Linked DNA regions of Homo sapiens: region 1 is linked to region 2. Evidence: fine-mapped expression QTL. Tissue or cell type: whole blood. Region 2 holds a variant in brackets; the other region holds the start of a gene. All regions are shown on one strand. Distances are between the middles of the regions.

Region 1 (8,109 bases), 200 kb before region 2:
AAACACTGTGGTACCGGTATATGACTAAACAAACAGATCAATGGAACAGAAGAAAAAGTCCAGAAATAAATATCAAATCAGTGGAAACAAGCATTGGAACAATTGGATAGACATCTGGAAAAAAGAAAAAATTTGATCCATACTTCACACTATATTGGAACACCAAGGACCAGAGTTCTAAATATAAACCATGAAATTATACAAGTAATAGAAGAAAATATGAGTAAATTCCTTTATAATCTGGAAGCGGGAAAAAACCTTCCTAGCTGAGACTCAAAATCCAGAGGCAATAAAAAGGGAAATCAAATTATATGAAACTTTTAAATATCACACACATGCAAGTGCGCATTACACACAGACACACACACCTCACCATAATAAAGCCAAAAGACAAATGGCAAACTGGAAAAAAAAATTAAAACTTAAATCAAGACAAAGTGCTAATACCTCTAAAATTTAAAATGCTCCTAATATGGGGCAGGAAGGGGAAGACCCAAAACACAACTTTTAATAGTGCAAAACATTAAAAAGACAGTTACAGGAGAAAACATTTAAATGGTCTTTAAACATATGTAAAGACATATACTCCCCCTCATAATTACAGAGATGCATTTAAAATTAGATGGAGATACTTGCCTATCAGATGGACAATAAATCCCAAAGTTCAACAACAAAGTATACAGTGAGGCTGTATAGAACTCGACACCATGATACACTGTTGGTGGGACTGCAAAATGGTATAATCAATGGAGAGGAATTTAGTAATGTCTGGAAAAATTCCAAATGCATTTACCCTTTTACCCAGCAATCCTACTTCTAGGAATCTTTTTCAAAGATTTACTGGCAAACATATAAAATTATTTAGGTACAAGGGTATTCACTGTGGCATTATTCGTAACAGCAAAAGTCTGAAAAACCCAGATGTCCACCAATAGGGGACTGGTTGAATAAGCCATGGTACATTCCCAAATGGAGTACTATGGATCAAACAGTGAATCATACAGATACCTATATACTGATATGGAGTGATACTCAAGATACAGTAAGAAAAGAAGAACAAGTTATCTAACAGTATGTATATATGTCACCTTTTATATTAGAAGGGGGGATAAGAACATACCATACATATGCTTACATTTTTTTTAGGTTTTCAAAAAGAAATGTTAATGATACAACGAAAAACTAATAAAAACAGTTACTAATAGCAGAAGGAAGGAAATAGGATGGAAAAGACAGAGAAGCAAGATTTATCTGAATATACATTGTTATATATATAATTTTGACTTGTGATCCTGAAAAGCTGAAAACTGAAACAAAGTTTATATCAAGTTGGTGATATAAAAATACACAGAAAAGAATTATTTCACATTGCATTAGAACACAGAATTTACTATACACTTTTAGTAAAATAAAGCAAGCAGAGCTACAAACAAATTTTAAACTTTATTCGGTAGTCTATAATCTAATTGTAGCAATCAATACTGGTATTATTTTGAAATTATTGTGAGATGATGCAAATGAGCAATTATGTCAATGATATGAGGAATCACTTATAGAAAATATGGGGGACAGAAGAACAAATTAAATCTTCCCAAAGAGTCAAAGAGAAAACTCCAAGATGAGAGACATTTTAGGAAATAATTGACTGAGTTTTGGCAACAAGCCAGTGGCATAAAGAAAAAAAGGAGTAGGGAGGTGGGCAAAGAAACTGATTCATTTGGATTTTGACTTGGTAATTTCTATGTTGTTATTTCTTTCATGCTTTTAAAGTACTTTATTGAGTACTCTCAGTTGTATTCAGCAGGAAAATCAGTCTAAATAGCCAACCATATTACCAAAAATAAACAATATCTGACTCTCAAGCATAGCAAATGTTACCTATAATAATGGAAAACTGAAACCACTGATTAGCGTGGGATAGCTATTCCTTGGCAGATGCTTTGTGATACCTTTCACAATGTTGGGGTAATATATCCTAGGACACAAAAGAATACGTAAATTAATTTACTGCTTAATCTAGAATGTAAAAGTTGCCTAACTATCATTACTGACCTAGACAGCCTAATAGAAAATGTAATGAGTCTGAATAATATTTAAAATAAGTTGTAACACATACTTATGCCTCTAAAAAATATTTTTTTTGAGTAACAGTAATACAGTATTATTTTATTTCATGAGAATTTCTTTTATTTATTTATTTATTTTTATTATACTTTAAGTTTTAGGGTACATGTGCACAACGTGCAGGTTAGTTACATATGTATACATGTGCCATGCTGGTGTGCTGCACCCAGTGTAAGAGATTGTTAGAATTCAAATATATTGAAATGATCTCCCTTTTTCTTTTTGAGAATTTTACAATAATCTTTGAATAATATGAAGCAATTTGGTATGTCCCAAACTTGAAATGAGAAACATTGCCACTACTATTGCACTGGAATTTTCTATTATATACAACAGAAACTAAACTTGATACAGCCTAAACCCAAATTCATTTGAATCCATTAATGAAGTAACATGTCTTTTCTTTCAAACAAAAGTACTGTTAAGTGTAATGAAAATGCATAACTCTACTTCTACACTGACTTAATGAGGTTTCCTAAAATTAAGAGATTTAAGTGGTCGGTAAATTGACCCTCAGTCACATCTTTAGAAGTGCAGCAGTGTATATATGAGCTTAAATAGAACTCTAAATGTCAATGCATTCCCTATTTCCACAATATTGCTGAATGTAGTATTTTTAACACATTATTTTAAGCACTATGATTGATGGCTGGTTTCCTAAATCCACAGTAAGAATCCAATTGAGAGTTCAACTGAACCCTCAAAGTAAAGTGGCAATAAAGCACCCAATCAACAATAAACTTCTATGTTGCGGACTCTTAAAATGCAGATACTTTTCGAGGAACATTAGTTTTATACAAAAGGTGGCTCCTAGAGTATAGTTTCTCTTGTAAGAAAATAAACTTCAAATTTTAATACAACAAATTCTATTTGTGGTATAATCTAAATAATGCTAATATAATTTAGAGAAAAACAAACGATTTAGTAACAAGGCATAAAGAGACTTTCCTTACACATAACATGCTAAATATTACTCGTTTTTAAATGGTGCCACTTGGTAACGAAAATACCGTAACTTTATTTGCTTTCTTTAAACTTGCCATTCTGGAAATCAGATTTGTGTTTTAACAGATTTACACAAGCAGTCCACTGAAGAGTGGAGCAAAATTTATCATAAATCTGATCTCACTTTATAAAACTCATGATGAAAAATTTTCCTTTTATATCATTTCATGTAATTTTAAAACTATAAACTACTTTCCCAGAAAGATGAAATGTGCAACACTCTGAAATCACCTAAATTGATACTGCTATTCTTAAAACATAAAATCAAATAAATGGTCATTCATACAGCACCAAAAATGTCTTTGGAAAAAACAATACTCATATCCACTTACCACCCAAGGTTGCATAAAGAAAAAAAACTTTAACTCCAAATATATAAAATAAAACATGTTTATTTTACATAGGAACTGATAATCTGAAGTATAAGATGCTAATTTCCAAATGTATCCTGGCTTGTGTGTAGCCTTGGTCAAATGATCATTGTATCAGAAAGATAAAGAAAAAATAATCGTATTTCAGTACTTCTATACATCCTAAAAGGGAAGACGGAACACTTAAGTGGTTGATAAATTTGAAAAGCTGATTAAACATAATAATCACCATGTTGGGGGAAGACATAAAAGTCATAAAACAGATTTTTTATAATATTAAAAAAGTGACATGAAAATTATACAATTTTAGAAAGGAATATAAAAAGGCAGGAGTTAAAAAATAGTGGGACTAATATCATAGAAAACTATCCATGAGGAAGGTCAAATTTATTTTCAACATGTAAAAAGGATAAAGAGTAGAGGTATTTTAAAAATTCACAGATTCTTAATGAGGCAAATGTTAAAATATGGAACCCAATCTCAGACAAATACATAGAAAGGAGTAAGGGCCAACTCTCATGCATAAGGTATCCCATCCTATAGCAAATCAGATATATAGGTACGCTTGATGCCACAAATTTTTTAAAAAATTGTCCATTTTGTTGCGTGTGCACCTCTTGCCATAAATTTGAGTCAGCACCAGCGACAGCTCTGCAGTCCTCCTATGTGGTACTGATCAGGTGGTTGCAGAGCTTCAGCTCACAGCAACACAATGCAGCTGAGCAGGCAAGCACAGCCCACAGCCAGAAACAGTTCCGACTCTACAGAACAAGACGACCTTTAAGTTTCCCAGAGAAAATGAGATGCTGATGTTGAAGACGACACCACGGTAAGATGTTATTTAAATCAGTAAAAGGCTGACTTTGGAATCTTTTTCCTTTTTCTTTTAAGAAAAAGTCAACGTTAGGATTAAATATATATTCAATAGCAAGTGCATGCACCAGAAATTTGCTGCAGTGTCAGTTGAGGGATATTTTTTATACATTCAGTCACTCTGTAAATATACATATTGTTTTCCTTTAAAATGGGCACTGAAATATACAGAAAAAAATCACTTTATAAAATGTGAGGTTTATAGGTACTGTGTTGGTCTGGATTTTTCAAGTGCTTTTTACAAAGATATATTTATCCTAAAAACATACAGATAAAATTTCGAAGAACTGCTTTAATATCTAAATAAAATCTACCCTATATACACACATTGAATTACATTACTGCAGAGATTAAAAAAAAAAGACACGACAGCCATTTTTTCTCATCTGAGTAAGAAAGCATATCATCAAAAATAGTAATAGCCTACAACTGCAACTATTTATTTGCAAAGAATGCTATTTTATCATATTAAGGCTCTAGAAAGATAAATAAGAAAGAATATGGTTAGAAAAGGGGGGAGGGAGAGAGAAAATAAAGGAGAAAATGCAGGAGAGAGTAGGGAGAGAGTCTCTCTCTACCACATAGCCCAATTGAAGGATTAAGCATTTGGACTATAAATGAAGGGGAGCTTTGTTAGTTTAATCACTGGAACAATTATAAAAGGACTCGACAACAACGAGGTTTATTGAAAATTTTGCCTAATGCTAACTGACCCATGCAGATGCCTAAACTGTATTTGCATATTAAAAGAAGGGTGTATCTGTTTGTTTCTAGGCTTTGATGGAATATCAGATATTGAAAATGTCTCTCTGCCTGTTCATCCTTCTGTTTCTCACACCTGGTATTTTATGCATTTGTCCTCTCCAATGTATATGCACAGAGAGGCACAGGCATGTGGACTGTTCAGGCAGAAACTTGTCTACATTACCATCTGGACTGCAAGAGAATATTATACATTTAAACCTGTCTTATAACCACTTTACTGATCTGCATAACCAGTTAACCCAATATACCAATCTGAGGACCCTGGACATTTCAAACAACAGGCTTGAAAGCCTGCCTGCTCACTTACCTCGGTCTCTGTGGAACATGTCTGCTGCTAACAACAACATTAAACTTCTTGACAAATCTGATACTGCTTATCAGTGGAATCTTAAATATCTGGATGTTTCTAAGAACATGCTGGAAAAGGTTGTCCTCATTAAAAATACACTAAGAAGTCTCGAGGTTCTCAACCTCAGTAGTAACAAACTTTGGACAGTTCCAACCAACATGCCCTCCAAACTACATATCGTGGACCTGTCTAATAATTCTTTGACACAAATTCTTCCAGGTACATTAATAAACCTGACAAATCTCACACATCTTTACCTGCACAACAATAAGTTCACATTCATTCCAGACCAATCTTTTGACCAACTCTTTCAGTTGCAAGAGATAACCCTTTACAATAACAGGTGGTCATGTGACCACAAACAAAACATTACTTACTTACTGAAGTGGATGATGGAAACAAAAGCCCATGTGATAGGGACTCCATGTTCTACCCAAATATCATCTTTAAAGGAACATAACATGTATCCCACACCTTCTGGATTTACCTCAAGCTTATTCACTGTAAGTGGGATGCAGACAGTGGACACCATTAACTCTCTGAGTGTGGTAACTCAACCCAAAGTGACCAAAATACCCAAACAATATCGAACAAAGGAAACAACGTTTGGTGCCACTCTAAGCAAAGACACCACCTTTACTAGCACTGATAAGGCTTTTGTGCCCTATCCAGAAGATACATCCACAGAGACTATCAATTCACATGAAGCAGCAGCTGCAACTCTAACTATTCATCTCCAAGATGGAATGGTCACAAACACAAGCCTCACTAGCTCAACAAAATCATCCCCAACACCCATGACCCTAAGTATCACTAGTGGCATGCCAAATAATTTCTCTGAAATGCCTCAACAAAGCACAACCCTTAACTTATGGAGGGAAGAGACAACCACAAATGTAAAGACTCCATTACCTTCTGTGGCAAATGCTTGGAAAGTAAATGCTTCATTTCTCTTATTGCTCAATGTTGTGGTCATGCTGGCTGTCTGAGGGTCTGCATTTTCTGAAACTAATGAAAGCACTCCTCCCTGATGTACAGTTGGGAAAATATGTCCATATCTAACCAGTGATTCGAGCTATATTTAAGTATTCAAGAAAGCCAGTCTTAACATTTCTAACTCTGATGTAAATGAAGTAACTTGTCTTAAATAAAAGAAATGCACAATGTCTTGGTACTTGCTGCTATTTTACTGTCTTAATTAAGTAAACTAATGAGTTTCTTTTATAAAAAAAATGAAATGTTTTAAGGCTTCAATTTATTGCACAAAATATAAAGCATCTAAACTTTAATATGTATTTTATGTATGTTTACACTGTCAAACATCTGGAAAATAAAAGGTCTATGCTCATAACTGTGTCATTTGGCTTTCCAGTCATACCAACTTTAGCAGAATCAAAATGACCTCACCATTTTTGTTCTAGGGTACCTTGGTAAAATCTTTAAGGTAAATAAAATGGCGGTAGTATCCAAGGATATTTTACTGAAGTAAAATCGTAGCTGCCATCCCATGAATGGTTATGCTACAACATTATTTTACAGACAAGCCATAATTGTTTTAAATCTAAATGATGTCCTGCTTCTGAGGAACTCTTGGCTACTTGACAGATTATATAATGGACAAAAGCTCTTCAAAAAGCTAGAAGACACTAGGCTTTGCATTTTAATAAGAAAAGTTTAACGGTTGTGTTTTTTGCATGTAAGAAAAGTGTTAAAAACATAATGAAAAAATTTAAAAACATGTAAAGAAGCAGTTTTAGTGCAGATTTAACACACCATTAATGGAGAATTTAAATATTTACAAAATTAAAATCCTACTACATGAAGGAGAAGAAAATTTATCTTTTACAAATCAGAAATCAGAATTACCTAAATTAAAAATAAGATTAGCTTAAGAATAAAATCATTGGGTCTGACGAACTTGGGCAGTACTGAGGAAGTGAGGAAGGAGAGAGGGAAAGGGAAAAGGGCATTTGGTACTACAACCAGGTGGTGAACCCAGTAAAACAGACTGAGGACTAAGGCTAGGCATGGGACAGAGATCTTGACACTCCAAATCAAACCACACTGGAACTCCAACTAGAAGAAAATCACTGAGAAATTCTCTACAAATATAAAAGTTAGCCAACTTATGAATTAGTGACAAACATAAGAAACAGCCACAAGGCAGCAAAAGAAGTCCTGAAACAGGATTGATTAAAATGCAAGACAGCATAACTGAGATGGGTGAGACACAAATGTGGTATTTAATTTGTGAGACGTAAGGCAGAATCTCATTTCAAGCATTTCTAGAGGTGGGAAAAGATAGAGAAAGGAATTTTTATGTTCCTTCGTAAAAACTTTTAAAAATTCAGATAGCCTCCTTTGCTGGTTTAGGAACATTTCTATTGAGAGAGAGAAAAGTAACAACACTCTAATGTGTTCTTTTTTTTGCTTTTTAAGGACCAGGATTATGGAAAAATTACCATTAAGCTTCAACAAAACAGTCATCTTTCATGCTGTCTAGTACAGTGGCTCTCGAACATTTTCTGCCTTAGCAAACCTGATTGGCTCACTGTGTCAGGGAATCTCACCATGAAGAAACAGGATTATTTGAAAAAGTCCCCTAAATGATTTTAAAATGCA
Region 2 (8,109 bases):
GCCTTCCGATACCTCCTGTCCCTTGACTTATATACACACACACCTCCAAAATATACGCAGACCTAAGGAACACAAGTGGAAAACACATTTTTAATTAATACGCTGCTTATCCTTAAAAGTATGTCGTTAGAATGCAACAATATAGAGTCTACATAGAACCCCAGAATACCAAATTTGAAAGCTACAACAAAAATGCCCCATAGCAATCTGAGTAATTTAAAGAACAAAGATGTAAAAAATAAGGCATTCTTACTACTGTATTATATGACTTAAACTTTTGTTTAAGGACAAAATGTTTGGTTGGGTGCAGTGGCCGGTACCCAAATAAAAAACGAAAAACAAAAATACTTTCTCCATATTAAAAAAAAAAATTTTTTTTGAGACAGGGTCTCACCCAGGCCAGAGTGCAGTGGTGCAATCATGCCTCACTGCAGCCTTAATTTCCTGGGCTCAAGCAATCCTGACTCAGCCTCCCAAGTAGCATATACTACCACACTTGGCTAATTTGTCTGTTTTTTTTCTTTTCTTTACTTTCAACCAATGCACACTGGCTGATTTTTTTTTTATTTGTTTTTTTTACTTTTTGTAGAGATGGGGTCTCACTCTGTTGCCCAGGCTGGTCTCAAACTCTGAGGCCCAAGTGATCCTCCCACCTCAGCCCCCCAAAAAGCTTGAATTATAGGCATGAGCCACCGCACCCAGCCAAAACATTTTTTAAAAGCAGACTTAAGGCCAGGTGCAGTGGCTTGCATCTGTAATCCCAGCACTTTGGGAGGCTGAGGCAGGTGTTTGAGGCCAGCCTGGCCAACATGGCAAAACCCCGTCTATAGTAAAAATACAAAAATAGGGCCAGGCACGGTGGTTCAAGCCTGTGATCCCAGCACTTTGGGAGGCTGAAGCGGGCGGATCACCTCAGGTCAGGAGTTCAAGACCAGCCTAGCCAACATGGTAAAACCCTGCCTCTACTAAAAATACAAAAAAATTAGCTGGGTGTGGTGGCACACGCCTGTAATCCCAGCTACTTGGGAGGCTGAGGCAGGAGAATCACTTGAACCCGGGAGGCAGAGGTTGCAGTGAGCCAAAATTGTACCACTACACTCCAGCCTAGGCGAGAAAGCGAGAACTTGTCTCAAAATAATAATAATAATAAAGCAGATTTGAGAAAAGAATCTAATTTCCTAATGGTTAAAAAGTCAAATAAAAAGAGTAGGGCAAAAAACAGGAACATTTAAAATAAAATGTAACAATATTAGACCAGCACCACAGCTTATGCCTATAATCCCAGCACTTTGGGAGGCTGAGGCAGGTGGATTGTTTGAGGTCAGTAGTTTGAGACCAGCTAACATGGCGAACCCTTGTCTCTTTTAAAAATACAAAAATTAGCCAGGTGTGGTAGTACGTGCCTGTAATGCCAGCTACTTGGGAGGCTGAGGCAGGAGAATCGCTTGAACCCAGAAGGTGGAGCTTGCAGTGAGCTGAGATCGTGCCACTGCACTCCAACCTGGGCAATAGAGCGAGACTCTATCTCAAAAAAAAAAAAATGAAGAAGAAGAAAAAAGAGAACTTGTCAATGGATACTAAAGTAAGGTATATATTGGCCAAGGTACATACAAAGGAATATCCAGAGACTAGTCACGCTCTCTTTTTTTTTTTTTGGAAGACAGGGTCTCACTCTGTCACCGAAGCTGGAGTACAGTGGCACAATCATGGCTCACTGTATGCTTGAACTCCTGGGTTCAAGTGATCTTCCTGCCTCAGCCTCCTGAGTAGCTGCGACTACAGGCACATGCCACCACACCCAACTAATTTTTTTTAGAGACAGCATCTCACTATGTTGCACAGCCTGGTCTTGAATTCAAGGCCTCAAGCAGTCCTCCCACATGGGCCTCCCAAAGTGCTGGGATTACAAGCATCAGCTACCGCACCTGGCCTACTCTCCCTTATTTAATGAAAACACAATAATCAGTAATAAGCTACACTGCACTCTAGCCTGAGTGACAGAGCAAGACTCTGTCACACACACAAAAAATAATAATAATAATAAGCTATAAAGAAAACATATAAATCTTATATTAGAAAAATTTTAGACTTTTCAAAGTGCTTCACATTCATATTCTATCACACCATTGCAAAATATCCTAACAGTAAGTGACAAATCCAAAATTACAAAAGTAGTTGATCAGATCTGAAACCTGATTCAAAAAACATGTTTGCTCTATGGGAGGAAATATAAATATGTATAAATTCCTTCTTTATGCTAATTTTCTTACTCATTCCTAGTTAAAATATCACTTATCAGACCTAGGCTATTGCAAACATGGAAGTAAAATTCAGTAAAACAAAGCCAAAAGTACCACTTTTTTTATTTAGCCAGTCTACCCTTCAACCAGGAATCATATGAAAAACATTCCATCAATGTTCTGTGTGTTTAAGACTGTGCTGGGCACTGGGGTGACTAGAAGAGAATTCAAATAGCGTTCTTTGCTTTTCAGAAAGTATGCACTCCATTTGATAAAAAGACAAGAAAAAAAGAAAACAAAGCCAAGCTGTGTTCAAACAATCCTCCTAAAGGAAGAAAACTTACTGTGTGGTTCTGTAAAACTCCAGGTAACAAGGATACCAAGAAGTGAGATAGCAGAGTTTAGTCTGAAACAACCTCATGGGGAAAAAAAAAAAATGAAATCTGAGCTGAACATTGAAGGATGGACAGGAATTAGAAAAGCACAAAGGAGGAATTAAAGCATTCAGGCAGAGACTGGCAGAAATAAAGGCCAAGAAGTGGGAAGAAGCATGATACACACAGAAGAGACTGAGGTGACCTGCCTGGAACATAGGTGCATGCAGAGGCATAATGGGAAAGAGTTTGGTAAATCAAGTGGGGTCAGCTCCCAATAGACTGCTGGGTCACAGAGACATGCTGTTAGAATATTAAAATCATCGAATATTTAAACTTGAAAGAATCTAAAAGATTTTCTAGCCATTTCTTTTTCAACAGATGAGGAAATCAAGGATCTATAGGAAAGCTAATGGCTAGGATAGGGACAAAGGCACTGAATAGCAGAACAAAACTAAGACCCCCGCTAAGGAACTCCAATTCAGTAGAAAAGTATTGTGTCTTGGGAACTGGAAGAGATTGGTTTCCGGGGGGAGTGGAACATCACAGTGGCATTACAACTAAGCAATGACCACTATGTTTTGCCAGAAGTAATCACTTTCAAGAAAACAGCAATCAAGCAGAGGCAGGAGCTACTTTTCAGAGTTATAAAGGAAATGGGTGGATAAACAGTAGAGGCGGTGAGTATCTGGCAACAACAACAACAAAAAAGACTGGTCCACAGAGAGAGAGCTGCAGGACCAAGTAAA[C/T]GTCTGATTTCCAAGAGAAAGGAAATCTTAGCCTGAAAAGTGAAAAGAAAGCAGCCAACATAAAGACTAAATTAGTTCCCAGACAGATAAGGTGGAAAGTGTAAGGGAGTGCAGAGAACTGAGGAACAGCTGGAAGAAATCTTTCTAAAGGATGAATTCCGGGCCGGGCACGGTGGCTCATGCCTGTAATCCCAGCACTTTGGGAAGTCAAGGCAGGTGGATCACGACATCAAGAAATTCAGACCCATCCTGGCTAGCACGGTGAAACCCTGTCTCTACTAAAAATACAAAATTAGCTGGGCGTGGTGGCATGCGCCTGTAGTCCCAGCTACTTGGGAGGCTGAGGCAGGAGAATCGCTTGAACCCAGGAGGCAGACGTTGCAGTGAGCTGAGATCGCGCCACTGCACTCCAGCCTGGGCGACAGAGTGAGACTCCATCTCAAAATAAATAAATAAATAAAAATTTAAAATAACAATAATAATAAATTAAAAAATTCCGAAGCAAAGAATAAGCATTATTGTGCTCGATTCAGCACCACATATACTAAAATTGGAAGAATAAGCATTATTTCTCACTCACCATAAAGAATTCGTCACCATAAAAGAGTACTCATTTTCAACTACTATAAGGCCTTATAAAAATTACACACCAGGCTTGAAGAATGAGGCTAGGAGATATTTTTTAAATCCAAAAAGCTTCAGTTTTGCAAATCTATTTGTCTAATCAGTATGTGGTTTGTAATTTCGAAGATACTTGCCAATCATTTTATACTGTGAATCACTCACCGCATATTCAACGTACATTCAGATGAACACTCAATGTATGAGAACAACAAATATGCTACTACAACCTCTAAAATCAGAGTTTATTCCATAACATATTCTTTAAATTGGGTTTTTTGGCTTTTATGTACTACTTTTGCTTGATCAGATATGGAAAATATAATTGCTTTAAATGAACATATTTACAACAAATCATTTTGGGATGGAGTTCTTTTTAATTCTTTTTTTTTTTTTTTTAGTTCAAATATCCATAGTTTTCCCATACTTCCCTTCAGAAATAAAGCTCTACAGGAACCAGTGGGGCATACAGAACTAGGGGAGATACACAGAAGGTTCTAATTTGCTTAGAAACTGGGTTAATGAACCACAATTAAAAGCTACACATGGCCGGGCGTGGTGGCTCACGCCTGTAATCCCAGCACTTTGGGAGGCCAAGGCAGGTGGATCACCTGAAGCCAGGAGTTGGAGACCAGCCTGGCCAACACGGTGAAACCCCCGTCTCTACTAAAAATACAAAAATTAGGCAGGCGTGGTGGTGGGCGCCTGTAATCCCAGCTACTTGGGAGGCTGAGGCAGGAGAATGGCTTGAACCCAGGAGGCAGAGGTTGCAGTATGCTGAGATCTCCCCATTGCACTCCAGCCTAGGAGACAAGAGCGAAACTCTGTCTCAAAAAAAAAAAAAAAAAAGCTACACACCTACAATTTGTCAGTTTCAATTAGAAACTTGCTATTTGGCACCACGAAGGCAGGTTAAGGAGAGATGTAAGATTTAACTGATAACATTCAGCTTTCTGGCTGTCCACCTGTGCAACTGTCATTTCCCTAACCAAGGAGGTGATTACTTCTAAAATTGGTAATACTCATTCAACTTAGACCCTAAATACTAGGTTTAGCTGCAATATTATCAGGTTAAGGAATTTTATATTACCCACAAGAATGTGAGCTCAAAATGTCAATATGGCACACATCCACTTCTTTTAACTGAGTCTACTGCACTAAGTTGCTAAGCGATACCCATCAGAGTGCAATATGTCTGTAATCAGCAGTGGCTAGAAATGCATTTCTGCTTTAATCACACCGAATATTAGAAATCCAACCAAAACAGCAATCATAAACAGAGTTGCCATCTTTAGACATGCACATGCTCCCTGGGGGCGTTAAGTGGTCCAACAGGCAAACTCTTAGCTGTAATAAGAAGGAAAGCTTAACTCCCCCTGGGCCCAGTAAAGCAAAGTACAGATAATATAATCCAAAATTCAAAAGTTTTATAAACAGTTGAAACTATTAAGATTCTTTTTTTTTTTTTTTTTTTCTGAGATGGAGTCTCGCTCTGTCACCCAGGCTGGAGTGCAGTGGCGCAATCTCGGCTCACCGCAAGCTCCACCTCCCAGGTTCAGGCCATTCTCCTGCCTCAGCCTCCCAAGTAGCTGGGACTACAGGCACCCACCACCACACCCAGCTAATTTTTGTATTTTTAGTAGAGATGGGGTTTCACTGTGTTAGCCAGGATGGTCTCGATCTCCTGACCTCATGATCGGCCCGCCTCGGCCTCCCAAAGTGCTGGGATCACAGGCGTGAGCCGCCGCGCCCGGCCAACTCTTAAGATTCTTATACAACTATCTCTCAGTACATGCAGGGCTTTTTCTCCCCTCAATAAAAATGTAAGCGATGGCTCACGCCTGTAATCTCAGCACTCTACTAAAAATAACAAATGTTATCCAGGAGTGGTGGCAGGCGCCTGTAATCCCAGCCACTTGGGAGGCTGAGGCAGGAGAATCACTTGAACCCAGGAGGCAGAGGTTGCAGTAAGCCAAGGTCGCATCATTGCACTCCAGCCTAGGCAAGAATCATGAAACTCCGTCTCAAAAATAAAAAAAATAAAATAAAGTCTTCTAAATATATTTAATGGATTAGAACAAATTTTATGGGATACTTAGGAAAAGTATCTCCCTGATGGTCAAGCATTCACTACTTTTCATACTGAAGCTCTTATTAGATCTATGTCACTTAACCTTCCCATGCCTCAGTTTTCTGACTAAAAGACATTTTCAACCGTAAGGTGAACTCTAATTTGAATTAAACATTTATCACTTATATAATAAATTAATATATTAATTTATTTTATATATATACTATATATAATATATATAAGTACCTTATGTTAAACACTGAAAACCCTTACATTTTTGTATCTCAAGGTCAGAGACTTTAACTTTCTAAGAGAAAAATGTGAGGAATAGGCCAGGCACAGTGGCTCATGCCTGTAATCCCAGCACTTCGGGAGGCCGAGCAGGGGGTGGGGGGCAGATCACCTGAGGTCAGGAGTTCAAGACCAGCCTGACCAACATGGTGAAACCCCCGTCTCTACTAAAAATACAAAAATTAGCCAGGCACGATGGTGCACACCTGTAATCCCAGCTACTTGGGAGACTGAAGCAGGAGAATCACGTGAATGTGGGAAGCAGGGGTTGCAATGAACCGACATCAAGCTACTGCACTCCAGCGTGGGCGACAGAGCAAGACCTTGTCTCAAAAAAAAAAAGTGAGGAATAATCTCTCCTATATATCTTTCTCTTAATTACAACATAAGGAATGCAGAAAAATGCTGTTTTAAAAACTAATGTCCTTAATTTTTAACAGATGGTGGTGAGTTTGATTCCACAATATGCATAACAAACAACGAAGCCTTAAGGTCTTTTAAAGCTAGGGACAGAAGGAGAAACACTTTCTTGCTTTACTGGGTATATAATCAAAATCATTCCTCCTTTTTTTTTTTTTTTTTTTTTGGAGACAAGAGTCTCGCTCTGTCGCCCAGGCTAGAGTGCAGTGGTGTGATCTCAGCTCACTGCAACCTCCACCTCCCGGATTCAAGCAATTCTCCTGCCTCAGCCTCCCGAGTAGCTGGGATTACAGGCGCCCGCCACCATGCCCAGCTAATTTTTGTATTTTTAGTAGAGACGAGGTTTCTCCATGTTGGTCAGGCTGGTCTCAAACTCCTGACCTCAGGTGATCCACCTGCCTTGGCATCCCAAAGTGCTGGGATTACAGGCGTGAGCCACCGCGCCCAGCCCAAAATCATTCCTCTCTTAAGTATCTTTTTCCAATATGGCAAATAAGCCTAGAGATGAACAGGTAAGAAGTAAAAAAATAAAATTAAGAAAAAACTGAAAAAAATTTTTAATTTTTAAAATTTAAGGAGAATTGCGGCGTGGATCCTTCAATTTCCTACATCCAGATTCTGCTGTCCACAAGGTTCAGCTTTGGAAGTCTTCTATGTGCCTTTTAAATCCTTTCTTAAAATTACAGAGTCTTTTCTACCAAGTTTTAAATCTAACGCTCTATCAATAATGTAATCTTTTATATGCAGTAACATTATACTTCAGATGGATTAGTAGTTTAGTTTAGATGCCTTTGGGTCTGGAAGCATACGAATGGATAAAACAATTCCTTCAAGTCTCTGACAGCTTCATAACTCTATTTTATCTACATAGCTTCTTCTCAACTTCCTCTGTCTATTCCAAGATATTTTCCAGGTAGGTCTGAAACGCTGAGTCCCGTAAAGAAATGTTTATGCATCAAATAACAGAAGAGCTCTTCCCCCACCCCTTCAGCTCCCATAATGTTTTACCATTATATCCAGTAAACAAAATAGGTTGACTCAATCTTAAACAATTCCCCCATCACAGGAAGCCCACTGCACCCACAGCTGCAGAAAGCATCCCTTAAACCATCCCCAACTACCTACAGCAACACAAAGTTAAACCAATTTCCACTGACAAAAGGCTATGTGTGCATTTATTCTAATCAGCCCCAGGATTTATTGTGTGAAACTCAGGCGATAAAAAGTCACCTCCTCAAGCTACAAAACTTTTTTTTCATCCCAAATATTCTCAATGAAAGTTCTCTTGTCAACCAGGAGAGAGTCAAAAACAACCACAAACACTAGCAGAATGATCCGCTCCA

What was found. PIP is the estimated chance that this variant, and not a neighbour inherited with it, causes the effect.
Region 1: it holds the start of OMG, and the variant in region 2 is fine-mapped to the expression of OMG in whole blood (TOPMed, PIP above 0.99).

Annotation. Positions count from the first base shown.
Region 1 is chr17:31,293,376-31,301,484 of GRCh38, reverse strand. OMG (oligodendrocyte myelin glycoprotein) reads left to right here and starts at 4,246. Exons shown (of 2, transcript NM_002544.5): 1 at 4,246-4,329; 2 at 5,148-6,838. The coding sequence starts at 5,154. The coding sequence ends at 6,476. All of the region lies in intron 36 of NF1 (neurofibromin 1), which reads right to left.
Region 2 is chr17:31,096,283-31,104,391 of GRCh38, reverse strand. The region is part of intron 1 of NF1 (neurofibromin 1); the gene reads right to left. Among named protein-coding and RNA genes, the nearest start is that of MIR4733HG, 4.8 kb to the right of the region's middle. RefSeq lists a silencer at 548-729. The variant C/T (reference allele first, on the strand shown) is at 3,364.